Linked DNA regions of Homo sapiens. The protein of the gene in region 1 purifies or fractionates together with the protein of each later gene. This does not show direct contact. Each region holds a gene or a part of one and is shown in the gene's direction. Other genes may lie near its edges. The genes, in order: IPPK, ZDHHC13, ZDHHC9, ZDHHC18, NDUFAF1, ADCY6 and OCIAD1.

Region 1 (3,500 bases):
CAGCTTCTCTCAGAATTGAAAGGTCCCTAATGAGTCCTGTGCTGACCCCCATCCCCTCTACCATGAGAACATGATGCGCCTTCAGCCAGCCTGAGCTCGTCCTGCAGGAGCCGAGGGCCTAGGTAAGGAGATCTGCATGGTCATTGGCTGTCAGCACTAGAAGGAGCACAGTGATGTTCTTCCTGCAGTATGCAAACATGGGATGAGAGAGAGCCTTCTGTGCAGCGCAGGACTTGTAGGAAATGAGGCCTGGGGATGGAGGAACTAGGTGTGGGCTACAGGAGGGTGGGAGGTTGTGCCCAGGGTGGGCAGGAAGGTAAATAGCAGGCCAGCCATAGAGAGGCGTTTAAAGGTGTTCCTGACAGAAGGTGGTCAGCTTCCCCAAGGCCCTTCCACTCAGAGACGGCCCAGGATGATTCTCATTTTGCCTGTCAGTTTGCATTCTGCCTCTGTTTGGGATGGTTGTGCACCTGAACTTTCCCAGGCACAGGTAACCATGGTGTTCTCTGCCTCATGTGGTGTGGACCCTGTGGCATGCTTGAGAGGCTCTCGGCAGCCTGGCATGTTCCCTGGTGTGTGTCTGGAGCTCCAGACACTGACCCTGTGGGGGCTCCTTGATGAGGGAACTTCCCATCTGGGCACAGTTTCCTCGCTGCAGCCTGAAGGTGCAGTACTTGGGCCAGTGGCCACATCTCAGGTTAGTGAAGTCCACAGGTTGCCCCTTTATGCACTGCCGCAGGATTTCTCTCCTGTGTGACGCCTGCGCCTGCCTCCTTCGCCTTCAGCTTGTTGGTTTTGGCTCAGTGTCCTGTCCTATGAAGGTCACTTTAGGTTTGGTTTGTCATTCCATCTCCTAGGTGTCTTCAGATCTGGATCATGCACTTGTCTGGGGCACTGAGCCCCTTCCGGACCACCTCAGCCTTGGGGAGCAGGGGCAGAAGGTGGCCCACTCCTGTCATGACACTAAGCTGTCATGATGTTTTCCTTCTTACTGACAGAGGTGACAGGAAAGACTTTGCCATTTAGTTGGCTTACCAGCCAACTAAATTGATCACATGTGTGGACAAAGCTGCTCACTTCCAGTTGTTCCAGTTTCGTGACCTTTCTGAGAGTCTGAGAGCTTCAGATCATTTCTGCAAATTGTTTTGTTGCCTGGGGAGTTTTGGTGTCCCTTTGGTACCTGTTTAGTGCTTGGGATATTTGTCTGGGCATTGAAGGTGTGAAGCTCAAGCGGTCAGGTGCCCTTCTACTGTTTCTCTTCTCATCTTGTGTTTTAAGATTTCTGGTTCATAGATCATATATATATGTATTTTTTTTGCCATACAGCATGATTTTGTATATTTTAATAATTTAAATGATTATTTTGTAGTGGATGAATTAAGTCCTTTATATGAGGATGTGTTTACAGTTACGTAGAAAAAGCAGGTTACAAAAGAAGATGCATGATGTGGTTATAATTACAAAATGATTAGAAGAAAATAGATGAAAATGTTCTAAGTGGCTGTAACTGATAGTATCACGAATCACTTTTACTTTTTTTTGTTTTTTAAATATTTTCTGAATTTCCTACAATGGATATGTATGATACTCAGGAAAAAAGATTAATTTTTAAAAAGTTTATACTCTTTGATTTACTAATTTCTGTTCTAGTAGTCCGTTCTAAGGAGATAATTAGAAACGTAAATAAAGATCTTATACACAAAGATATCCATTACAGAATCACTTAGAACAGGTTAAGTGGAAAGCCATTGTGCAGTCCTGCAGGACTGTTAACTGGGCCATACTTCCTACTGTGGATGCTGAAAGCACATACGTTTATGTTCTCTGTTTTTTTCTGACTGTATAACATGTGCCCAAGCCCTTGGTCGCTCCCTTTTACAATTTTTAGCTGGACCTAGTTGAAATAGTCTTAGCTTTCTGTTACTGCTAGCATTTTGTTTAAACTAGTGATGTATTCTGCATTTGGGATTTTTAGTGGCGCTCTAGGCTGACGCAGCTGATGTGGCTTCTTTCCTGGTGATGTTCCTTCTTGTCTCATTTGAGCTCATTGGAGAGCTGTGCTTGTGGCTCGCTCTTTGTTTATTCCTTTCTTTGTATCTGCAGTTGCGTGATGAGGTCTGCTGTTTGGTGACTGCAGCCTGTGACAGTGCCTCTCGTGCACGGGGGTTTGTTGGTTTGGCCTTGGCTCACCTCCTACTTTTACACCTTCTGAGGTCACACAGCCACTTTTCTTCTGCCTGACTGAGCCTCCTTCTGCATCAGAATTCAGTCAGAGCAAAGCTCCCCAGTGACTTCCTGTGTCTTCTGAGAGCTGCGATCCAGGAGGGTGAGAAAAGCATCATTACTGTGTCTGCAGAGAGCAAGGCTGTGCCTAGGGCCCGGCCACTCCTGCCTTGTTGCCAAGCGGTTGGGAGATCTGAGGGCCCGGACTTGCTCACAGTTCCCTGTGGCCCTCACTGTGGGCCTCTAGGCAGCCCTGCTTCCCCTTTACAGGCAGTGAGGCTTTCCATGCCTATAGGGGTCAGCCCCATGCACGAGGTGTGCCTATCCCCACAGGCCTCCCCATGTTCTGAGAGTTGTGTGGGTGTGTGACCTCCCCCATGGCCCACACCTGTGCCTGCTTCAGTCCTGCAGAGGACACCATGAGGTCAGGACGGAGTTGCCGAGGCTTGAGGACATGCCCCATACAGGTTGGACAAGGGGCCAGCACTTACTGCGCCCTGACCCCAGGCTGTCTCCAGTCTGGCCTCCCTGCTCTTGCCTGCAGAGTACTGGGCTCCCATCCTCCACAGGCATCTTGGTGATGTCACTTTTCATCCGGTGTCAAATGTGCTTTGTATTTCTATCTGAGGCCATACATTCCCAGTGAAGCGAAGCTCACCCTTGGGAGCGCTTCCTGTTGGAGCCCAGTACCGTAAGCCCTGCTTCTTGTTCCCTCCACGGTCCTACGCATCCTGGACATCCCTTTCTGGGTTGCAGAGGTGGACTTCGGCACCTCCTGCCCCTGGTGACTGACAGACCCCGGGCAGCCTTCTCTGGCTGGGACAGAGCTGGAGCTGGAGCTGCGGGGGTAAGCTAAGGAGGGTCTACAGGGAGGGCAGCCTCTTGAGACTGGACATTTGGGATCCCCCATGGCCCCTGCCTGGGAGTCATCTTCACAATTCGGAAGAAGCTGGAGCTGAGCATTGCTTCTAGAAGGCATCCTGAGGGGTGACCCCTGCTGCTGTTGTCTTTTTCTGTCTTCCCTTCCCATGAAAGTTGTCTGATCTCAGCTTCAGGTTATCTCCTCAGCCTGATGGAAGACTTGACCTTGGTCCTTGTCTTTTGACAGATCTCTGGAACAGCTGATTTTGTGGGTGATACCCCTCCAGAGTGAGTCCTCTGTGGGTGGCGGGAAAGTCTCTCCTCATCTGTCCTGAAAGGCTCTTGTAGTTAGTAGCTTTAATTCCACCCATAAGGTGCCCCCTCAGGCTTCCCATTGGCAGGTGTCCCTTTTAATG
Region 2 (3,500 bases), on another chromosome or scaffold:
TAATCTTTCTAACCTACAAAGAGAAACAGATATGTGCAATTCATTAGAAAAACAAGTAGACTATGAAAAGGCAATCCACAAAAGAGAAAATATGGAGAGCCAGTATACCTAACAACAACAACAACAACAAACAAAACACTCAGACTCATTAGCAACTAGGGGAGTACAGGTGAAAGATAGGATGCCATTTTTAGCCATCAAAGTGTCAAGGTTGTAAAAAGATTGATAATATTCAGTTCTGGGAAGGTTTGTAGGGAGAAAGAACACGTATATACTTTGCTATTGGGACTGTGAATTGGGGAGAGTATTTGGTCAGAATCTATTTATGTTTAAAATGCACGTTTTTTGACTCAACAGTCCTACTTTGAGGAATCAATCCTATAGAATTAGAATGCCCAGGGTGTTGATTGTGTATAGATATGAAAGGCTGAAATCAACCTGTGTCTCTAACCAAAGGGGAGTGTTGAATGAATTATACTAGATCTATATACAATGGAACAATAGTGAAATATTACTGAACTGCAGGACTGTACATGATATATTGTTACATGAGAAAAGCAAGTTGAAGAATAATGTATATAATGTGATACTATTCTTTGTTCAATAAGTATAAGAAGAAAATGATTAAAAATGTGGATGTATGTATGTATATAGCACAATATTATATATGTTAAAATATATATACATAATGAGGGAAGATGCACCCAATTGTTAATAATGGTTATCTCTGGTGGTACAGTATTGAAGAGGAAAGAGTCCGGATTGTTAACCCTGTATTCACTTCTGTATTGCTAGATCTTTAAAATTAATATGTTATCATTTTATGGTTTTAAAATTCTAGTAAAAATTTTTTATATAAAAATACACTGATTTTTTTTGTCAATCTTAGCTGCACTTTTTGTTATACCTGTTACTTATTGAGATTCTAGAAATTTTTAGTATAGTTCAACTCTTTTCCTCAACCCTTTGCCTTCTTCCAATTGAATATAATTACTGTGATATCAGGAAAAGCATCCTAAAGTAATGTTTTTATTTACATTTTAATCTAACTACCTACATGTTTATTTTTAGCTGTGTGTGATTCTGCGTGTGTGTGGGGGGGTACTGATTATTTACCAGATAAATCAGAATTTACCTATTCAGAAAAGCAGGTGGACTGAAGAAGAAAAAGACCGGAATTCAAAAACCACCAAATCAGTAGCTGATTTACCTTTTTTCTCTCTGATTTGCCCCCAGCCTTGACTTGAGCCCTGGAAATAAGCATCAGTGCAGACGAGTGCTCTATGAGAAGCTATCTAGTTAAAGCTCAAGGAGCCACAAAGGGATTTCCTGGCAGCACAGTCACCAGAAACACTGAGGGAGAACTCTCTGAACAGAGGAATTGTGACCCCAAGACAGTAGTTTTTAGACGTGACACCAAAAGCACAATCCATAAAAGAACAAATTGATAAATTGGACTTTTTTAAAATTTAAAACTTCTGCTCTATGAAACAGACTTTTAAGAGATGGGAAGGTAAGGTACAGACCAGGAGAAAATATCTGCAAATCACATATCTGACAAAAGACTTGTATCTAGAATATATAATATAAAGAACTCTCAAAACTTAACAGTAAGAAAACAAACAGCTCAATTAAAAAATGGACAAAAGACTTGAACAGACACTTCACCAGAGAAGATATACAGGTGGCAAATAAGCATGTGAAAAGATGCTCAACTTCATTAGCCGTTAAGGATATGCAAATTAAGACCATGATGAGATGCCCCTATACATCTATTAGACTGACAATCCCAAGTGCTGGTGAGAATGCAGAACAATTGTAACTCTCATAGTTGTTAGTGGCAATGCAAGGTGATATAGCCAGTCTGGAAAATAGTTTAGCAGTTTCTCATAAATTTAAATATACCTAACATATGGCCAAGCAGTCTTATTCTTAGAGAAATGAAAGGATGTTCACACAAAAGTTTGTCCACGAATATTTTTAGCAGCTCTGTTTATGATTGCCAAAAGCTGGAAAACAACCCACGCAGACTGTTTGGATAGATTATCTGTGACGCACCCATATAGTGGGATACTACACAGCAGTAAAAAAGAAGGAATTATTGATAACATACAACAACTTGGTTAAATCTCAGCACCATTGTGCTGAGTGGAGGAAGCCCCTCCTAAAAGATTGTGTACTGTATGATTCCATTATATGACATTCTGGGAAAGACAGAATTAATGACAACAGATCAGTGGTTGCCAAGAGTTGGTTGGGGTTACGGGAGGGTATGACTGCAAAGGATGATGGTGGCGGTTACGTGACTCCATACATACATGTGTTAAAATTCATACAGCTGTATACCAAAGTTAATTTTACTGTAAATTAACTTTTTAAAAACAGTGCCCCTTCAAAATAATCCCTTGAGGGATTATGGACTCATTTAAGTAAAACTGAAAATTTTAAAACTTTCTTTTAAAAACTTTTGTTTTAGGTTTGGGGATACATGTGCAGGTTTGTTATATACACAAACTTATGTCATGGGGGTTTGTTGTATAGATTATTTCCTTACCCAAGTATTAAGCCTAGTACCCAGTAGTGATTTTTTCTGCTCCTCTCTCTCCTCCCACCCTCCACCCTCAAGTATACCCCAGTGTCTGTTGTTCCCTTCTTCTTTTTTTCTTTTCTTTTTCTTTTTTTTTTTTGCAGTGGAGTCTTGCTCTGTCACCCAAGCTGGAGTGCAGTGGTGTGATCTCGGCTCACTGCAACCTCTGCCTCCCAGGTTCAAGTGATTCTCCTGCCTCAGCTTCCCAAGTAACTGGAACTATAGGCACATACCACCACCCTGGCTAATTTTTTTTTTTTTTTTTTTTTTTTTTTAGTAGAGACGGAGTTTCACCATGTTGACCAGGCTGTTCTTGAACTCCTTACCTCAAGTGATGCACCCACCTTGGCCTCCCAAAGTGCTGAGATTACAGGCATGAGCCACCATGCCCAGCCTGCTGTTCCTTTCTTTGTGTTCATGAGTTCTCATCATTTAGCTCCCACTTATAAGTGAGAACATGCAGTATTTGGTTTTCTGTTCCTGCATAGGGGTAATAGCCTCCAGCTCCATTCGTATTCCTGCAAAAGACATGATCTCATTCTTTTTTATGGCTGCATAGTATTCCATGGTTTATATGTACTACATTTTCTTTACCCAGTTTGTCATTGATGGGCATTTACATTGATTCCATGTCTTTGCTATTGTGAATAGTGCTACAGTCAACATTCACATACATGTGTCTTTATAGTAGAATGATTTATAGTCCTTTGGGTATATACCCAGTAATGGGATTGCTGGGTTGAATGGTAGTTCTGCTTTTAGCTCGTTGAGGAATCGCCATACTGCTTTCCACAATGAACTAATTTTCACTCCCATCAACAGTGTATAAGCATTCCTTTGTCTCTGTAACCTTGCCAGCATCTCTTATTTTTTGACGTTTGAATAATAGCATTCTGACTAGTGTGAAGTGGTA
Region 3 (3,500 bases), on another chromosome or scaffold:
ATATGGCCAAATGATATTCCATTATATGGATATACCACATTTCATTTATCCATTCATCAGTTGATGGACATTTGGATTGTTTCCACCATTTGATTATTATGAGTGATGCTGCTATGAACATTTGTGTACCAATTTTTGCATGGCCATATATTTTCATTTCTCTTGGCTATATACCTGGGAGTAAAATAGCTAGGTCACATGGTAGCTCTATGTTTAACCTTTAAGGTACTGCTGAACTGTTTTCCAAAGTGGCTGCACCATTTTATACCCCCACTAGCAGTGCCTGAGGGTTCCAGTTTCTCTACATCCTCTGCAACACTTATTATCTGACATTTTGAGTCTAGCCATCTTAGTGAATGTGAAGTGGTATCTCATTGTGGTTTTGATTTGCATTTCCCTGATGACTAATGATGTCGAATATCTTTTCATGTGCTTATTGGCCATTTTTATGTGCTCATTGGAGAAGTGTCTGTTCAGAGCTTTTGTCTATTTTTTAATTGGATTGTTTGTCTTTTTTATTGTTGAGTTGTAAGAGTTCTTTATGTAATCTGTATGCAAGTCTCTTACCAGATATACAATTTGCAAATATTTTCTCCTATTCCATGGGTTATCTTTTAATTTTCTTGATAGTGTCCTTTGGAGCACAAAATTTTTAAATTTTGATGTAGTCCAGTTTGTCTATTTTTTTCTTTTGTTGTTTGTACTTTTTGGTGTCATATCTGAGAAACTGTTGCCTAATCCAAAGTCATGAAGATTTATGCCCTTGTTTTCTTGTAAGAGCTGTACAGTTTTGGCTCTTACATTTAGGTTTTTGATCCATTTTGAGTTAATTTTTATATATGGTGTGAGGTAGAGGGTCCACATTCTTTCTTTTGCCTGTAGCTATCCAGTTGTCTCTGCACCATTTGTTGAAAGGACTATTCTTCTCCCATAGACTTGTCTTGGCACCCTTGTTGAAAATCTATAAATGTGAGAGTTCATTTCTGGACTTTCAGTTCTATTGTATTGCTCAATATGTCTGTTCTTATGCTAGTACCACGCTGTCTTGATTACTTTAGCATTGTAGTAAGTTTTGAAATCAGGAAATGTGAGTCCTCCAACTTTATACTTCTTTTTCATGATTGTTTTGGCTCTTCTGGGTGCCTTAAATTTCCGTATGAATCTTAGGATCAACTTGTCATTTATGAAAAGAAGCCAGCTGGAATTTTGATGGGGATTTCATTGAATCTATAGATCAATTTGGGGAAATATTGCCATCCTAACAAGATTAAATATTCTGAGCCATTTACATGGACTGTATTTTCACATATTTAGGTATGATTTGATTTCTTTCAACAACATTTTGTAGTTTTCAGAGTATAAGTTTTACACTTTTGTTACATTTATTCATAAATATTTGATTATTTTTCATGTTATTGTAAGTGAAATTGTTTTACTAATTTCATTTTTGGATTTTTCACTTGGAGTGTATTGAAAGACAATTGATTTTTATATATGGATCTTATACCCTAAAACCTTGCCAAGCTTGTTCATTAGTTCTTTTTTGTTTGTTTTTGTTTTTATTTTATGAGATGGAGTTTCGCTCTGTTGCCCAGGCTGGAGTGCGGCAGCGCCATCTTGGCTCACTGCAACCTCCACCTCCTGGGTTCAAGTGATTCTTCTGCCTCAGCCTCCCAAGTAGCTGGGATTACAGGTGCCCACCACCACACCGGCTAATTTTTGTGTTTTTAGTAGAGACCGGGTTTTGCCATGTTGGCCAGGCTGGTCTCAAACTCCTGACCTCAAGTGATCTACCCTCCTCGGCCTCCCAAAGTGCTGGAATTATAGGCACGAGCCACCGTACTCGGCCCTTGTTCATTAGTTCTAATAGATTTTTAGTAGTTTGAACTTTGTTTTAAAATAGAATCATACTTTTTTTTTTTTTTTTTTTTTCTGAGACGGAGTCTCGCTCTGTCGCCCAGGCCGGACTGCGGACTGCAGTGGCGCAATCTCGGCTCACTGCAAGCTCCGCTTCCCGGGTTCACGCCATTCTCCTGCCTCAGCCTCCCGAGTAGCTGGGACTACAGGCGCCCGCCACCGCGCCCGGCTAATGTTTTGTATTTTTAGTAGAGACGGGGTTTCACCTTGTTAGCCAGGATGGTCTCGATCTCCTGACCTCATGATCCACCCGCCTCGGCCTCCCAAAGTGCTGGGATTACAGGCGTGAGCCACCGCGCCCGGCCAGAATCATACTTTTAAGTGAATTCTTTTTATAAGGTAGATAATAGTTCTCTACTTTGCCTTTCCTAAATTTTGAATTTCCTTTTAAAGTACAGCAACCCGTGTTTATATATTATTGTTGTCATTTTTAATATTATTTTTTAAATGAGTCTGGACTCAAATTGTAACAATCTAGGTTAGTTATTCTTGGTTCAAAGTGGAGAAGGGTGGTATTTTAGAATCACTTGGGGACATTTTCAAACCACATATGACCAGCTGAAAATTTGGACACTTGGCCTTCTTTGGTTCAGAATCACTATTCTAATGAGCTGTGTGTTCGGGCAGAAACACGATTGAGGACCATTGGGTCAGGCCTTGTTACATAAGTATGTTATGACATTTGTTCTGAAGTGGGGAGGACCTGTGTAATTATTTGTGATTCCTATTATTATGACTATTAATAATAATAGAAAAATCTGTCCCCAACCAACAGTTAAGGATCAAACTCAAATAAACTTCAGTTGTGTTCTGCCGAGAAGACGATAGCTTGGTGTTGGTTCTGAGTTTGGTGTTGGTGGCTGCATATCTGTAGCATCAGTGTGATCAGGGGGCTGAGAGGAAGAGTTCAGTGTCTAAGGTTTATCTGCATTTGGATTTTGAGGAACAGCTTTGTGTTGAATCTCATATCTTTTCCTTCTCAGGCCCCCACAGAACACCTGAACTCAAATGAGATGCCGGAGGACAGCAGCACTCCCGAAGAGATGCCACCTCCAGAGCCCCCAGAGCCACCACAGGAGGCAGCTGAAGCTGAGAAGTAGCCTATCTATGGAAGAGACTTTTGTTTGTGTTTAATTAGGGCTATGAGAGATTTCAGGTGAGAAGTTAAACCTGAGACAGAGAGCAAGTAAGCTGTCCCTTTTAACTGTTTTTCTTTGGTCTTTAGTCACCCAGTTGCACACTGGCATTTTCTTGCTGCAAGCTTTTTTAAATTTCTGAACTCAAGGCAGTGGCAGAAGATGTCAGTCACCTCTGATAACTGGAAAAATGGGTCTCTTGGGCCCTGGCACTGGTTCTCCATGGCCTCAGCCACAGGGTCCCCTTGGACCCCCTCTCTTCCCTCCAGATCCCAGCCCTCCTGCTTGGGGTCACTGGTCTCATTCTGGGGCTAAAAGTTTTTGAGACTGGCTCAAATCCTCCCAAGCTGCTGCACGTGCTGAGTCCAGAGGCAGTCACAGAGACCTCTGGCCAGGGGATCCTAACTGGGTTCTTGGGGTCTTCAGGACTGAAGAGGAGGGAGAGTG
Region 4 (3,500 bases), on another chromosome or scaffold:
CCTGGCCAATTGTTCCCTAATTTTTGTTTGTTTTTAGAGACAGGGTCTTGCTCTGTCACCCTGGCTAGAGTGCAATGGAGTGATCCTGGCTCATGCTCACTGCAGCCTGGAACTCCTGGGCTCAAATGATCCTCCCACCTCAGCCTCCTTAGTAGCTGGGACTATAGTCACACGCCGTCATACCCGGCTAATTTTTGTCATTTTTTATAGAGATAGGGTCTTCCTATTTGCCCAGGCTCATCTTGAACTCCTGGGCTCAAGCAGTCCTCCCATCTTGGCCTCCCAAGGTGCTGGGACTACAGGCATGAGCCACTGCATTCGGCCTGTTTCGTAGTTTTTAATCTGTAGTCAGATTTCCACAGTTGCCCTCCAAATGTCTTTTGTTGCTGTGTTTTGTTTTGTTTTTCAAAATAAGATCCATGATGTATTGCATTTGTTTATGTCTCTTAAATCGCTTTTAATTTAGAATCATCTCCTCTCTGCCTCTCTTTCTCTCTCTCTCTTTTTTTTTTAAGACAGGTTCTGGCTTTGTTGCCCAGGCTGGAGTGCAGTGGCGTGATCTTGACTCACTGCAGCCTTCACCCCCTGGGCTCAAGTGATCCTCACTCCTCAGCCTCCCAAAGTGCTGGGATTACAGGTGTGAGCTACTGCACCCGACCTCCTCTCTCTTTTTATAAATGACATTGACTTTTGTTAGAGATCAGGCCAGCAGTCTTGTAAATGTCTCATATTCTAGATCTGACTTTTTCCTCATTGTGTTACTCACTTTGTTCCTCCATCTCCTGAACCTCCTGTAAACTGGGACATAGGTCTAGGCTTGATGAGATGCAAATAAACCTCACTGGCTGGGCGCGGTGCATCACTCCTATAATCCTGGCTGTTTGGGAAGCCAAGGTGGGCAGATCACCTGAGGTCAGGAGTTCAGACCAGCCTGGCCAACGTGGTGAAACTCTGTCTCTACTAAAAATACAAAAATTAGCTGGGCGTGGTGGCACACTCCTGTAATCCCAGCTACTCGGGAGGCTGAGGCATGAGAATCGCTTGAACCTGCGAGGTGGAGGTTGCAGTGAGCTGAGATTCACGCCACTGTACTCCAGCCTGGGCGACAGAGTGAGACTCTGCCTCAGGAAAAAAAAAAAAACCCTCACTAAGCTTTCTGGGAGTCTCCTTCTCTGACAGCCCTTCTTAGAGTGGGTAAGGCCGGCAGGTGTATGAACAGAGGCAGTCTCAGTACATGGTGGCAGTTCCTAATATTTGTCCCTGCCTTAGGCCAGACATTTTACTCCAATGTTTGTTCCTGGGAACCTGTTACCCTGAGGCTTCTCCTGGACTGGCCAGGCAGCAGTAGCTTTCCCCTGCTGGGGATCCGGGCCCTGGGCTGCCTTGGGCATTCCCCATCTTTCTCTCCTCCTTCCCTCAGACAACACAGGCAGTTCTACATACCGGCCACCCCCTCGGACCCGGGAGGTGCTGATCAACGGGCAGATGGTGAAGCTGAAGTACTGCTTCACCTGCAAGATGTTCCGGCCACCCCGAACCTCACACTGCAGTGTCTGCGACAACTGTGTGGGTGAGTAGGAGGCAGCAGGGAGGGATGCAGGGATTCCTGAGAGAGACTGAGTCGTGGGGATGGGGGGCATCAAGCATGGGGATGGCGTGGGCAGGGTCTGAAATACCCAGGGCTGGGCAGGGGGTCTGGTTCACCCAGATTTGCCCTGACTCAGGAGGGCCCAGGGGAGGGGCCCTCAGCATAACCAGGAGTGTTTTGGCTTCAGCTCAGGATTGGTGGATTCCTTCCCCCAGCTCTGAGGTGTGGGGCAGACAGACAGGCTTTGAACCCTTCTCCCAGGCTTCAGCCCGGTCCTCAAGAGGTCCAAGCTCCCAGGAAACAGACTGGAACAATAACATTCCAGATGTGTTTGGGCCAGAAAGAATGAGTTACTGTCCAGTGGCCCAGGGCCAGCTGTACTGAAAAACTTTGATCTGATTCCCAGAGTTGAGAGGGAAAAGCATCTAGCAACAGAGGCGTTTAAGCTGATGAGGTGCAGAGGATGTCACCACTGGAAATGGCTCCTGACCCTACAGCTGCCTGCAGTGGTTGTTTTGTCCCCTCTCCCTGCTCTCCAGAGGCTGTGTAGTTCTGATGGGCACCCTGAGAGGGTGTTGTAAGGGAAATAATGCATGAGAGGGCCCAGGTGAGCTGAGCCACAGTGACTGTGCATAGTTCCCAGGGCAGTGAGCTCATCATGCCAGCTCAGTACTCCCTAAGCAAGAGAACAGCAGGGAACACCCCCCCGTGACGGCATGCAGTGAAGGGGGTGACTCAGTGGGCACCATTCATCCCCAAGGAGCTGCCCCGCCCACGCCGTGCAAAGGGCACTGGCCTTGGCATGAGGCCTGCAATGGGCTTGTGACCCACATTCCCACAAGGACTTTCTTTACCAGTCTGGGTGTGCCTCCACCCCCGGGGACAGTGTGCAGGTGAGCTCAGCCCTTTGACCTGGCCTGTGATGCTGGCTGGCTGTGAACCCCATTGCAGCTCAGCCCCTCCCTGGGCCGCTAGTCCTAGAGCAGGAGACGGGTTGTTGACTGTTAGCATGTGGTTGGGATGGTAGACCAGGTGACAAGTATTTTTGTGAGTCTTTGTGCCGGCACTGCTCTGGATCCTGGGGAGTCAGCATGGTGTAAGACCAGCACAGCCCCCCTCGCCCATGGAGCTTACAGTCAAGTAGGGCTGATTGGCCAATCCAGTTATTATAAATAAGCATAAAAACACACATGGGCAGAGTGTGACAAAAGAGAAGTGATGGGGCAGATAACAGGGGCCCCCTCCCCTAGTCTGGGATTGGAAGAGACTTTCTTAAGGAGGTGGCTTTGCAGCTGAGACGCGAAGGAGAAGTTCCAGTTAACCAGGTAAAGAGACGAGAGAATGTATCAGGCAGTGGGAACTGGTACACAAAGGACCAGAGGCAGGTGTGTCCAAGGCCTGGGAGCCAGCTGGTGCTGCGAGAGTGAACGGGGTAGGAAAGCCCCAGCCATGGGTGAGGCCGCCAAATGCCTGTGCTGGCTGCAGGCCAGCCCACACTAACCCATCGCCCCTTGCCCTTGTCCAGAACGATTTGACCATCACTGCCCCTGGGTGGGCAACTGTGTGGGGAGACGGAACTATCGCTTCTTCTACGCGTTTATTCTCTCCCTCTCATTCCTGACGGCCTTCATCTTCGCCTGTGTGGTCACCCACCTGACGTTGCGTGAGTTGTGGGTGAGGGCAGTGGGGAGTGGAAGGGGTCAGCCAGCAAGCTCAAGGGTCAGCAAGCTTCAGCAGTCACTGTCCCTCTGAGCTTGTCCTCTCCTGTTTCTTTCTCCCCAGGCGCTCAGGGAAGCAACTTCCTCTCCACTCTGAAGGAGACACCAGCAAGATATCCTTTGTCAGCTAGAGGACACTCCAGTGGGAACTGAGGTCCCTTCACTGGGTGGGTGCCCTGCCTCATCCTCTAATC
Region 5 (3,500 bases), on another chromosome or scaffold:
CAGCCTCTGCCTCCCAGGTTCAAGCGATTCTCCTGCCTCAGCCTCCCGAGTAGCTGGGATTACAGGTGCCCACCACCATGCCCAGCTAATTTTTTTTTTTTTTTAGTTGGAGTCACTCTGTCGCCCAGGCTGGAGTGCAATGGCACGATCTCGGCTCACTGCAACGTCTGCCTCCTGGGTTCAAGCGATTCTTATGCCTAGGCCTCCCAAGTAGCTGGGATTACAGGCATGGGCCACCACACCTGGCTAATTGTTTGTATTTTCTGTAGGGGTTTCACCATGTTGGTTAGGCTGGTCTTGAACTCCTGTCCTAGGTGATCCGCCTGCCCTGGCCTCCCGAAGTGTTGGGATTACAGGCATGAGCCACCGTGCCAGGCCAATTTTTGTATTTTTAATGGAGACGGGGTTTTACCATGTTGGGCAGGCTGGTCTCCAACTCCTGACGACAAGTCATTTGCCTGCCTAAGACTCCCAGAGTGCTGGGATTACAGGTGTGAGCCACTGTGGCGGGCTACAATTTTTGGTTTTTTTATTTTTTTTGAGATGGAATTTCACTTTTGTCACCCAGGCTGGAGTGCAGTGGTGCAATCTCGGCTCACTTGCAACCTCCGCCTCCTGGGTTCAAGTGATTCTCCTGCCTCAGCCTCCCCAGTAGCTGGGATTACAGGCGCTCTCCAACATGACCAACTAATTTCTGTATTTTTAGTAGAGATGGGGTTTTACCATTTTGGCCAGGCTGGTCTTGAACTCCTGACCTCAAGTGATCCGTCCACCTTGGACTCCCAAAGTGCTGGGATTACAGGTGTGATGCACGGCACCCGGCCAACATTTTTTAAAAAAATTAGCTGGGCATGGTGGTGTGCACCTGTAGTCTCAGCTACCTTGGAGGCTGAGGTGGGAGAATCATTTCAGTCCAGGGCCCAGGAGTTCAAGGCTACAATGAGTTATCGATCTTGCCACGGCGCTGCAGCCTGGGTGACAGAGCAAGAGACCCTGTCTCTTTTTTTTTTTTTTTCACATGGAATTTTGCTCTTGTCCAGGCTGGAGTGCAGTGGCGTGATCTCGGCTCACTGCAATCCCTGCCTCCTGGGTTCAAGTGATTCTCCTGCTTAAGGCTCCCTAGTAGCTGGGATTACAGGCGTCTGCCACCACGCCTGGATTATTTTTAGTAGAGATGGGGTTTCACCATGTTGTCAAGGCTGGTCTCGAACTCCTTACCTCAGGTGATCCATCCGCCTCGGCCTCCCAAAGTGTTGAGATTACAGGCGTGAGCTACCACACCTGGCCTGACCCAGTCTCTTATAAAAAGAAAAGAAAAAAAAAAGGCCGGGGACAGTGCATCATTCCTACAGCCCAGCACTTTGGGAAGCCGAGGGGAGAATCACTGGATCCTAGGAGTTCAAAACCATCATGGGCAACACAGGGAGATCTATTTCTTTTTCTTTCTTTCTGTTTTTTTTTTTTTTTTTTTTTGAGACAGAGTCTCGCTCTGTTGCCAGGCTGGAGTGCAGTGGCACGATCTTGGCTCACTGCAGCCTCCTCCTCCCAGGTTCAAGGAATTCTTTTGCCTCAGCCTCCTTAGTAGCTGGGACCACAAGTGCGCACCACCACACCCAGCTAAGTTTTGTATTTTTAGTAGAGACGGGGTTTCACCATGTTGGCCAGGATGGTCTCAATTTTTTTTTTTTTTTTTTTCCCGAGACAGAGTCTCGCTCTGTCGCCCAGGCTGGAGTGTAGTGGCGGGATCTCCGCTCACTGCAAGCTCTGCCTCCTGGGTTGACGCTATTCTCCTGCTTCAGCCTCCCCAGTAGCTGGGACTACAGGCGCCCGCCACCACACCCGGCTAATTTTTTGTATTTTTAGTAGAGACGGGGTTTCACCGTGTTAGCCAGGATGGTCTCGATTTCCTGACCTCGTGATCCACCCGCCTCGGCCTCCCCAAGTGCTGGGATTACAGGCGTCAGCCACCGCGCCCGGCCCAGTCTCTATCTCTTGACCTCGTGATCCACCCACCTCAGCCTCCCAAAGTGCTGGGACCGTGCCTGGCCAGGGAGATCCATTTCTACAAAAAATTTAAAAATTAGCTGGGCATGGTGGTGTGTGCTTGTAATCCCAGCTACTTGGGTGGCTGAGATGGGAGGATCATTTGAGCCCAGAAAGTAGAGGCTACAGTGAGCTGTGATTGTGCCACTGTACCCAGCCTGGGCCACAGAGCAAGACCTTGTCTCAAATAATAATAATAATAATAGTAAACAAATAAGTTAACAAACTTCAAAATACCTGATTTCTGTTGAATTTGAAATTGTGATGCATTCATTGCTATGCTGATAATTCTTCAATGTCTCTTCTGTTATAGGTAGAATTGGGCTATTTGCTGAAGCTTCTTGGTGGCCCTTGCTAGCCCAGGAAGAAACTTACATTTTGATTTTTTTGTACCATGGCTTTGGTTCACAAATTGCTGCGTGGTACTTATTTTCTCAGAAAATTCTCTAAGCCAACTTCTGCCTTGTATCCATTTTTGGGTATTCGCTTTGCAGAGTATTCCAGTAGTCTTCAGAAACCAGTGGCTTCTCCTGGCAAAGCCTCCTCACAGAGGAAGACTGAAGGGGATTTGCAAGGAGATCACCAGAAAGAAGTTGCTTTGGATATAACTTCTTCTGAGGAGAAGCCTGATGTTAGTTTCGATAAAGCAATTAGAGATGAAGCAATATACCATTTTAGGCTTTTGAAGGATGAAATTGTGGATCATTGGAGAGGACCGGAAGGCCACCCTCTGCATGAGGTCTTGCTGGAACAAGCCAAGGTTGTCTGGCAATTCCGGGGGAAAGAAGATTTGGATAAGTGGACAGTGACTTCTGATAAGACGATTGGAGGCAGAAGTGAAGTGTTTTTGAAAATGGGCAAGAATAACCAAAGTGCACTGCTATATGGAACTCTGAGCTCTGAGGCGCCTCAGGACGGGGAGTCTACCCGAAGTGGGTACTGTGCAATGATATCCAGGATTCCAAGGGTAGGTGAGGCCCAGGAGCCATCGTTTTCTAGTAAACAGGGGTGAACTTCATTGTAGCATAAACTATAGAAGATAGCTTTTGTTTCTGTAAATGAAAACACCTGGCATGTTATATTTGGCACCTCACCTGTGTCTGGGGATAAGTAACTATTGGCACAAGTGTGAAGTGGAAGCACAAGGGGGAAGTGGTTTCTGAGGAGGAGGAGTTAACTTGTTTCTGCGCATTGCTTTGGGCCAGGAACGAGCATTGTTATGTTTCAGGAATCCTGAGAGGTTAGACATTTGAAAGATTTTTGGAGAGATTTTCATCTCCTCTAAAAAAGACCACAACCTCTGTAATGACCAGGGGTTTTGTAGAGTGGATGTAGGGTTAGCCTGTGGCTTTCTTTTTTTTTTTTTGAAACGGAGTCTTGCTCTGTCGCCCAGGCTAGAGTGCAGTGGCGTGATCTCGGCTCACTGCAACTTCCGCCCTCCAGGTTCAAGCGATTCT
Region 6 (4,033 bases), on another chromosome or scaffold:
AGGGCTGGTCCTGAGGAGGAAGCATCTTCAGATACCTAGGTCTTGGGATCTTGGGTGGGGAATAGGCTGCTTGGGGAAGGGCTGAATTGGAAGGAGGAGCTAGAGGTCTGACTGAGGGAATGGAGAGGGGGCCTCAAAAGGAAGCCAGGCAGGCTGCCTTCTTCCCAGCTCCAGAATGGCACCCCCTCTAAAGTCACACTCACCTACGTACATCCTGGAGTGAAACTCCTTCTCCTTTCTGCTTCCACCATTACTCTAATCCTCAAAGGGTTAACCAGCTTTCACACGATTTTCCCATCTCCCAGGTAACTTGGGCAGCTGCTCCGTGCTGGAAATAACTAAAGACCCAGTTTCTCAGTTCGTGCACTTAGCAATGCACCCCAGTAGCCCCTCCAACCCCCAGCAGAGAAGCACAGCCCTTTGGGTAAAAGATGCCTGGGGGTGAGGCTGCAAGTTGGCAGGTGCGGGGGAGGGGCTCCCAGAGAGTAGGGCGGGGGGTTGTGGGGGCGGCAGGGAGAGTGCCCCTTCCCTGGGTCCCTCCACTGGGCCCCGAGGTTCGCCTCGGGGCCGCTGCCCCAGAGACTGGGGGGAAGAGGAAAGAAGTGGTGTGCGGGCAAGCAGGCCGCACACACCTGGCGCCTTGTGGAATGAGAGCTTAATTAATTATTAAACTGAGTTCCCGCGGGAGGGCGCAGGGCCGTGACAGGCAGGGCGGGAATGGCTAGGTGGGGGCTGGGGCTGGGGCAGGGGCAGGGAGGAATTGGGGATGAAGAGTGGGCGCGGGGCGCCGGCCCAACCCCTGGGACCCTGACAGGAAGGAAGGCGACCCTCGGTGGGCGGGGCGGGGGATGTAGCCGTGAGGGGTGGGTTTGCGGGCGCGCTCGGGGACCCCCGGGGTGAGGGCGGGAGAGGAATGCCGGAGGAGGCGGCCGGGGTGAAGGGAAGGGGACCGGGCTGCGAGGTCCCCTCCCCGCGGGGTCTTGATCCCAGAACAGTAGCTGCTTGTCTTCCCAGGACTGGGGGAGGAAGCGGCCGGAGGAGAGGAGGGGGCGCGCGGAGGGAGGGGTCCCATTATTTGGCCTCCTCCGCCCCTACCCCGCTGCTAGGAAGGGGAGTGGGCAACTCGGCCCCCACTTCTGGGGAGGGGGAGGGGGATGCCCAGACAAAAGGAGCTTGTGCCTTTAAGGCGGGGAGTCCGGGAGCCAGCGGGGAGGGGACTTCTGGATCCGGGGTAGAGGGCGGCTGCGCTGGACAGCTCGGGAGGGGGCGAGGGCCGGGCGGACGGCGGACGGCGGACGGCGGGCGGGACGGCCAGGACGCGCGGGCTCGGAGGACCGCGGGACGGCCGGCCGGCCGGCCGGAGCCCGCGGGGGCGGCGGGGCGGGGGCCCAGGGCAGGCGCGGAGCCGGGCCGGCAGGTGAGCGCGCTGAGGGCTAGGGGAAGTGGCCGCTCGGGCTCCCGGTGCGCCAGGATTGGAACGCACCCGAGCGGCTCTCGACAAGAGTTTGTGGGTGGGGGCGCCGAAGCCTTGGACGGGTCGTCTCGGCAGTGTTGCCCGAGGGAGTTGGGGTTGGCAAAGGGAAGTCATGGAGGCAGTGGGATCGAGGACTCCTAGGTCCGGCGCTCGCCACCCCCGTCGCCCGCCGCCTGCCTCCCTCCACGGGGCGAGTTCCAGGCTGGCCCGGAGGCCAGGAGGATCTGGCACGTACTGGGGGAGGGGCTGGCCTGAGTTTTTTGCTGCGGGGCTGTGGGGTGTCTCCGAGTTTGGGGGAGATTCCATTTAGGGGAGAGGAACCGGCCTGGGCAGAGGGAGGGATGCCCTCTGTCTGCGGGAGTCCCTCTCCTTCCCCTCACCCAAAACCTTGGGAATGAAAGGGGTGGGGTCGGCTCCCCACATCCCCCAAGGCCTGCCGCAGGGTGGGCAGGGGAGCTGACTTTATTCAAAGCAGACTCTGGGGCTCGACTGAAAGGCTAGAGGTGGAATCAGGCGTGGGAGCCTCTTTGCCCATATCCTCTCCTTACCAGATTACCCCTGTGAGCTGGAGGGACCTGGTGGGGGTTGCATAGTAAAGGGTGATGTGGGAGCCCTCTGTAATCTTTAGGGAGAGTGAGGACTGGGGATGGGAGAAGGCGGCAGCGGGCACTGGACCGACAGATACAGGCCCTGGGTAGGCTCCTCTACATCTGGAAAGGCCCAGAATTGAAGAATTGAGGCCCATGTCCGAGTATGGTGGGTGGTGCTGGCACTGCTGGGCCCCGCCTGGGCAGTGCCTCTTACCATGAACTTTCTGAAGTCGTTTTTAATCCCCTGGAGCCTCCTTTTGCCAAGGAGGGCAGGGGCAGATGGGCCCTGGGGATGGGATAGACAGGAGGTGGCCAGGAAGGCTTGGCAAGGCAGTGGGCAGAGCCATCCTTAGGGCTGGGCCTTGGCCTTGGCTGGTTCCAAACTCTGGTCTCAGCCTGATCAGGGTTTGGGAGGGACTTGAGGTCTGGGAGGCACTGAGCCTGGGCCTGCCAGGCTGAATGGGACATGGCTGTGGCTGTGGGAGCCGGTGGTATGAAGAACAGCAGATCTGTGAGAGTGCAAATGGACCAACACTCAGGGGAGGAGAAGGTAGAGGCACAAGGCTTAGGAGCCTGACTCTGGGGAGGAGGGAGGTGGTCTGTGCTCCCAGGGCTCATAGTGATGGGTTGCTGGACAAAGTGGGTTGGGGGACCATATAGAGAAATTTTGTGGCTTGGAACAGTGCTCTACCCTGTTTCCTGCCATACCAGTCTGGCATGGGGTGCCAGAAATGTTGGGAGGCCGGCAAGTTCTGCGGGATGGGCAGTGCCTGGAGTGGAGCCCAGGGTGGGATGGTTGCAGTTGGTTGGACAATTACATAGCTCTGAAGCTATCCCCTTGGGGGGGGTCAGAGTGTTCCTGGGAGGGTCATGCATTCTCCTGGATAGCATTTGCCCCTTTCTCTGTGAGTATGAGCCAGATGCTAGGATGTGTTTCCAGGGGGCTTGGAACATGGCCAGAAACTAGTCCTTTGGGAACAGGTCCGGGCCAGTGCTGGTGGGGGTGGTGTGTTGGGGGAGATAAGAACAGGGAAGGGGACTGGTGAATGGAGGAGGCTGAAGCAAAATGTTGTGGGTGGTGGATGGTGGTGGGAAACCTGCTCACTCTGGGCTCTGTCTCCAGCAGCTCTGGGGACTGACAGCCAAGGACACAGGGACTGATAGAACCAGGCATCTGACTGGCTAGAAAGACGTGTGTTCTTGCTCATGATTTCCTCATCTTTCCATCTCTTGACGATGACAGAGGTTTGGGTTTAAAGTGTTGTAGAGTGAGGAGAAGAACTAATATTTTTCAAGTGTGTACTTCTTGACAGGCATTATTAGATTCTTTCCTGAGGACCATTATCATTTCCATTTTGCAGATGAAGGTACTGACACAGAGAGGTTAAATAACTTGCCCAAGGCAGTGTGGCTAGCAAATAATCACGCTAAGGTTTGGAACCCTGGTCTCATGCCAAAGATCATGCTTCTAATGAAGTATTTTGAAGAGCAAGGCTTTCTTTGGTGACCTTTTCCAAATGCCAGCCTGACCAAAAGTCTTGTATTCCTGATCTGTCCTTCCAGATGGTGCTGTTGGTGATGTTAAGAGGTTGAAGGGGCCAGGCATGGTGGCTCATGCCTATACTCCCAGCACTTTGGGAGGCCGAGACAGGCAGATCACCTGAGGTTAGGAGTTCGAGACCAGCCTGGCCAACATGGTTAAACCCTGTCTGTACTAAAAATACAAAATTTAGCCGGGTGTGGTGGTAGGTGCTTGTAATCTCAGCTATGGGGAAGCCGAGGCAGAATTGCTTGAACCCAGGAGGCAGAGGTTGCAGTGAGCTGAGATTGTGCCACTGCACTCCAGCCTAGGTGGGGCAGAGTGAGACTCCGTCTTAAACCAAAAAACAAAAGGAGGTTGAAGGACGTGCTGCTCTGTGGGATATAGGAGAAGGGGTGCTGACAGATCTTGGCTGAGGGTGACTCAGGG
Region 7 (3,500 bases), on another chromosome or scaffold:
ATTGCTTGAGCCTAGGAGGTGGAGATTGCAATAAGCCAAGACTGCGTCACTGCACTATAGCCTGGGTGACAGAGCAAGACCCTGTCTCAAAAAAATAAAAAAAATTATATGTATATATAATTTTGGAAATAAGCTATATGAAAGAAGTTATTTTAACACTTCTTTAAGATATAGGCAATGACTCATATTTCTTACTACAATATGATTTTCATTTACAGGCACTATTATCAAAAGTCAAAATATGACTCAAGTGTGAGTGGTCAATCATCTTTTGTGACATCCCCAGCAGCAGACAACATAGAAATGCTTCCTCATTATGAGCCAATTCCATTCAGTTCTTCTATGAATGAATCTGCTCCCACTGGTATTACTGATCATATTGTCCAAGGTAGAAACTTCTCTTGAAATGAATTTCAACATTTTATGGTCCAACGTATGTATAAACTTTATTTGATGACCTTTTCTGCTGGATATCACCTGTGTGTTCTACCATCAATCATCAACCTAAACTCAGCATGTTTGTTCATTTGTTTCTTCATTCATTCAACTTTTCTTGAGGACCAGTAGGTGTCAAGGACTCTGCTAGACGTGGAAGAAGATGAATAACACTTGGTTCTTGTCCCTGAAAAACTTTCAGTCTGTTAGAAGATATAGAAATACAAGGATGAATTACTAGTATGTCCCAGTAATTGAAAATACTAAGGCAAGCTTAGTGGAATAGTGAAGAAGAAATGATAAATCGTGTCTCAGGAAGTAGAGCTCCAGGAAAGGTATAAAAAGGTTACATTTGATAGGCTGGGTTTTAAAGGCTTTCAGCTTCCCTGTCTGTAATACAAGAAAGAACTGTTGTCAAGTGAGAAAATCCATGTGAAAATGCTTTGTGAAGTTTGTAAATACTAGCTTTGAAGATCACACATGTAAGTGCAACAACATCAATTTTGTATTAAGGCTTGGATTTGAATCATGATTGACATTTGCTAGCTATGTGACCTTGTAATACTACTACTACATTATAATAATGTAGTAATATTATTATAACTACTTTATGATCCTTTCAGTTTCTTGATCAGTTGAATGGAGATGATACTACCTCTCTTAATGAACTGTTGGAATTAGAGGAAATAATCAGAGGCAATGTCTGGCAAATAATAGACTCAAAAAACATTAGTTTCTTTCCTTCAGTCTAGTCGGCAGTAAAAGATGAGGAATTAGAAACGGGAAATACAGGTCTGTAATTCTTTATCTAAAATCCTGAAATTCAAAAAGGTTTAAGCCAAGTTTTTTTTTGTTTTTTGTTTTTTTTTTTTTTTTTGAGATGGAGTCTTGCTCTGTCGCCCAGTCTGGACTGTAGTGGTGCGATCTCGGCTCACTGCAACCTCCGCCCCCCCAGCTTCACGCCATTCTGCCTCAGTCTCCTGAGTAGCTGGGACTGCAGGTGCCCGCCACCACGCTCGGCTAATTTTTTGTATTTTTAGTAGAGATGGGGTTTCACTGTGTTGGCCAGGATGGTCTTGATCTCCTGACCTCGTGATCCGCCCGCCTCGGCCTCCCAAAGTGCTGGGATTACAGGTGTGAGCCACTGCCCCCGGCCTGTTTTTGTTTTTTAATAATTAAACTGGTAATAAAATCTGACCTGAATTCATTTAGCAGAATACCCTGACCTAAATTCACATAAGTTATATAAACGTAGACTTTATTTACTTTGCCAGATAAGATTTTTCCTTTATTTCATTATAGAAATATTAATGTGTTTGCTTACTCATTCCTGTCCTAAACCTCTGAATGGATGGATATTAAGTAATATAAGGGGTATTTACTGTAGTATTTTTCTAAAACCTCAGAAACTTTGAATAGTGAAACATACCTGACCCCAAGGTTTGGATAAGGGATTATGGACCTTTGTAGAGTATACTCTTTAAATTTTAAAAGATTAGAGGGAAAGAAGTTAAAGGGAGGGGAGGGTATACAGTGGAAAGGGAGAAGTTGATTATAGGTCAGAGAAGGTTCTAGAGAATGCAGAAGGGGGTTCTAGGTAGGTCAGAGTAGCCGCTAGCCATATGTGGCTATTTAAATTAATTAAAGTTAAATGAAATTTAAAATTCAATTTCTCAATTGCTTTGGTAGCATTTCACTTGCTCAATAGTCACATGTGCTAGTGGCTACCGTGTTAGTGCCAATATAGAACATTTTCATCATTGCAGAAAGTTATGTTGGACAGCACTACTTAAGAGCAAAAGTCGGGGCAAAGGGGTGAGTATTAGCCTTGTATAAAGGAAGAGACAGGAAAGAATGGAAGTTCAGATGATTAAAGAATTTGGATGAAAGTTATTGAGAGCTTCTTAATCCTCAACTCTGATTTTTTTATTTTTTTCTTTAATGGTTGGAAGCAAAGGCATCAAATTAGTCAGAAAAGGAAGGAAGGGAATGGGCAGATTAGGAGAGAATGGCTAAAGTCACTATCTTATCTCCAAAGGCAGCTGTCCTTGTTCCTCACTATGTCTCATTTAACCAGTCTGAAGTTCAAATCCATTCTTCTTGTACAGTAGTCCCCCCTTATCCATGGGGGATAAGTTCGAAGACCCCTGTGGATGCCTGAAACCTCAGATATTACCAAATCCTTTATGTTCTATGTTTTTTTGATCTAGATGGCTACTAAGTTACTAACAGGCATGTAGTGTAGACAGTGTGGATATGCTGGACAAAGGGATGATTCAAGTCCTGGATGGACCAGAGCAGAACCTCACAAGATTTTATCACACTACTCAGAACAGGGTGTAATTTAAAATTTATGAACTGTTTATTTCTGGAATGTTCCATGTAATATTTTCAGACCATGGTTGACTGCAGGTAACTGAAACCCTGGAAAGCGAAACCACAGATAAGGGGGCACTACTGTATTCTAGACATGCACTAACTCTTTCCTTGTGATGACTTGCATCTTCCCCACCATTTGCATTAGGAAATTCTGTTATATAGTTTTTTTCCATACAAAAGCCAACAAACAAAAAGCCCTTTGGTATCTACCCACAGACTACTTAGCAAGGCCATGTCTTAATATTATTTTATGCCTTCCACAGCAGCCATCCATCCATCCACTGCTCTGCCTTCTGACCCCCTTCTCTAAATCAAAGTGGCTACTTTTTTACTGCTCTCCACATGGGCCAGCAGTGGCCTGCTTTTGCTTTGCCCCAGATGCTATCCTCCCCTACCAGGGCATCTTATTCTTTGGTTTAAGTCCTACTTTAGTTCTGCTTTCTTTTACCAGGAATTCAGAGAGTTATTAATCTTTTAAAATAGCAAGCACTCCTTCAGAGCTGTTAGGAGACTTAGAGTTTATTACAGTTAGATTTAAATCAGTGCCACTTTACATTTTTTTATTCCTTCCAGTTCTTTATAACCTTCCCAAAATAGTAAATCATGTTCTCTCCATAGTGTGGGAAATTCTCCCCAGTCTTCTTCTGTCTGATGTATATTTTCATTATTTGTTCCAGAATTTTATA

Evidence for each region.
Region 2: the proteins of IPPK (region 1) and ZDHHC13 purify together in Homo sapiens (affinity purification with mass spectrometry; 2 studies listed by BioGRID and IntAct, with this or other methods). This does not show direct contact.
Region 3: the proteins of IPPK (region 1) and ZDHHC9 purify together in Homo sapiens (affinity purification with mass spectrometry; 2 studies listed by BioGRID and IntAct, with this or other methods). This does not show direct contact.
Region 4: the proteins of IPPK (region 1) and ZDHHC18 purify together in Homo sapiens (affinity purification with mass spectrometry; 2 studies listed by BioGRID and IntAct, with this or other methods). This does not show direct contact.
Region 5: the proteins of IPPK (region 1) and NDUFAF1 purify together in Homo sapiens (affinity purification with mass spectrometry; 2 studies listed by BioGRID and IntAct, with this or other methods). This does not show direct contact.
Region 6: the proteins of IPPK (region 1) and ADCY6 purify together in Homo sapiens (affinity purification with mass spectrometry; 2 studies listed by BioGRID and IntAct, with this or other methods). This does not show direct contact.
Region 7: the proteins of IPPK (region 1) and OCIAD1 purify together in Homo sapiens (affinity purification with mass spectrometry; 2 studies listed by BioGRID and IntAct, with this or other methods). This does not show direct contact.

Annotation. Positions count from the first base shown.
Region 1 is NC_000009.12:92,663,632-92,667,131, reverse strand, and holds part of IPPK (inositol-pentakisphosphate 2-kinase), read left to right. Parts: intron 1-3,500. UniProt on the Homo sapiens protein: Phosphorylates Ins(1,3,4,5,6)P5 at position 2 to form Ins(1,2,3,4,5,6)P6 (InsP6 or phytate). InsP6 is involved in many processes such as mRNA export, non-homologous end-joining, endocytosis, ion channel regulation.
Region 2 is NC_000011.10:19,123,668-19,127,167, forward strand, and holds part of ZDHHC13 (palmitoyltransferase ZDHHC13), read left to right. Parts: intron 1-1,241; exon of another isoform or gene 1,242-1,505; coding exon of another isoform or gene 1,506-1,513; intron 1,514-3,500. UniProt on the Homo sapiens protein: Palmitoyltransferase that could catalyze the addition of palmitate onto various protein substrates. Palmitoyltransferase for HTT and GAD2. May play a role in Mg(2+) transport.
Region 3 is NC_000023.11:129,805,887-129,809,386, reverse strand, and holds part of ZDHHC9 (palmitoyltransferase ZDHHC9), read left to right. Parts: intron 1-2,900; coding exon 2,901-3,017; 3' UTR 3,018-3,500. UniProt on the Homo sapiens protein: Palmitoyltransferase that catalyzes the addition of palmitate onto various protein substrates, such as ADRB2, GSDMD, HRAS, NRAS and CGAS. The ZDHHC9-GOLGA7 complex is a palmitoyltransferase specific for HRAS and NRAS.
Region 4 is NC_000001.11:26,847,188-26,850,687, forward strand, and holds part of ZDHHC18 (palmitoyltransferase ZDHHC18), read left to right. Parts: intron 1-1,420; coding exon 1,421-1,570; intron 1,571-3,113; coding exon 3,114-3,251; intron 3,252-3,370; coding exon 3,371-3,419; intron 3,420-3,500. UniProt on the Homo sapiens protein: Palmitoyltransferase that catalyzes the addition of palmitate onto various protein substrates, such as CGAS, HRAS and LCK. Acts as a negative regulator of the cGAS-STING pathway be mediating palmitoylation and inactivation of CGAS.
Region 5 is NC_000015.10:41,395,997-41,399,496, reverse strand, and holds part of NDUFAF1 (complex I intermediate-associated protein 30, mitochondrial precursor), read left to right. Parts: intron 1-2,356; 5' UTR 2,357-2,437; coding exon 2,438-3,010; intron 3,011-3,500. UniProt on the Homo sapiens protein: As part of the MCIA complex, involved in the assembly of the mitochondrial complex I.
Region 6 is NC_000012.12:48,786,290-48,790,322, reverse strand, and holds the start of ADCY6 (adenylate cyclase type 6), read left to right. Parts: upstream 1-1,233; 5' UTR 1,234-1,417; intron 1,418-1,466; exon of another isoform or gene 1,467-4,033. UniProt on the Homo sapiens protein: Catalyzes the formation of the signaling molecule cAMP downstream of G protein-coupled receptors. Functions in signaling cascades downstream of beta-adrenergic receptors in the heart and in vascular smooth muscle cells.
Region 7 is NC_000004.12:48,851,588-48,855,087, forward strand, and holds part of OCIAD1 (OCIA domain-containing protein 1), read left to right. Parts: intron 1-218; coding exon 219-388; coding exon of another isoform or gene 389-405; exon of another isoform or gene 406-638; intron 639-3,500. UniProt on the Homo sapiens protein: Maintains stem cell potency. Increases STAT3 phosphorylation and controls ERK phosphorylation. May act as a scaffold, increasing STAT3 recruitment onto endosomes. Involved in integrin-mediated cancer cell adhesion and colony formation in ovarian cancer.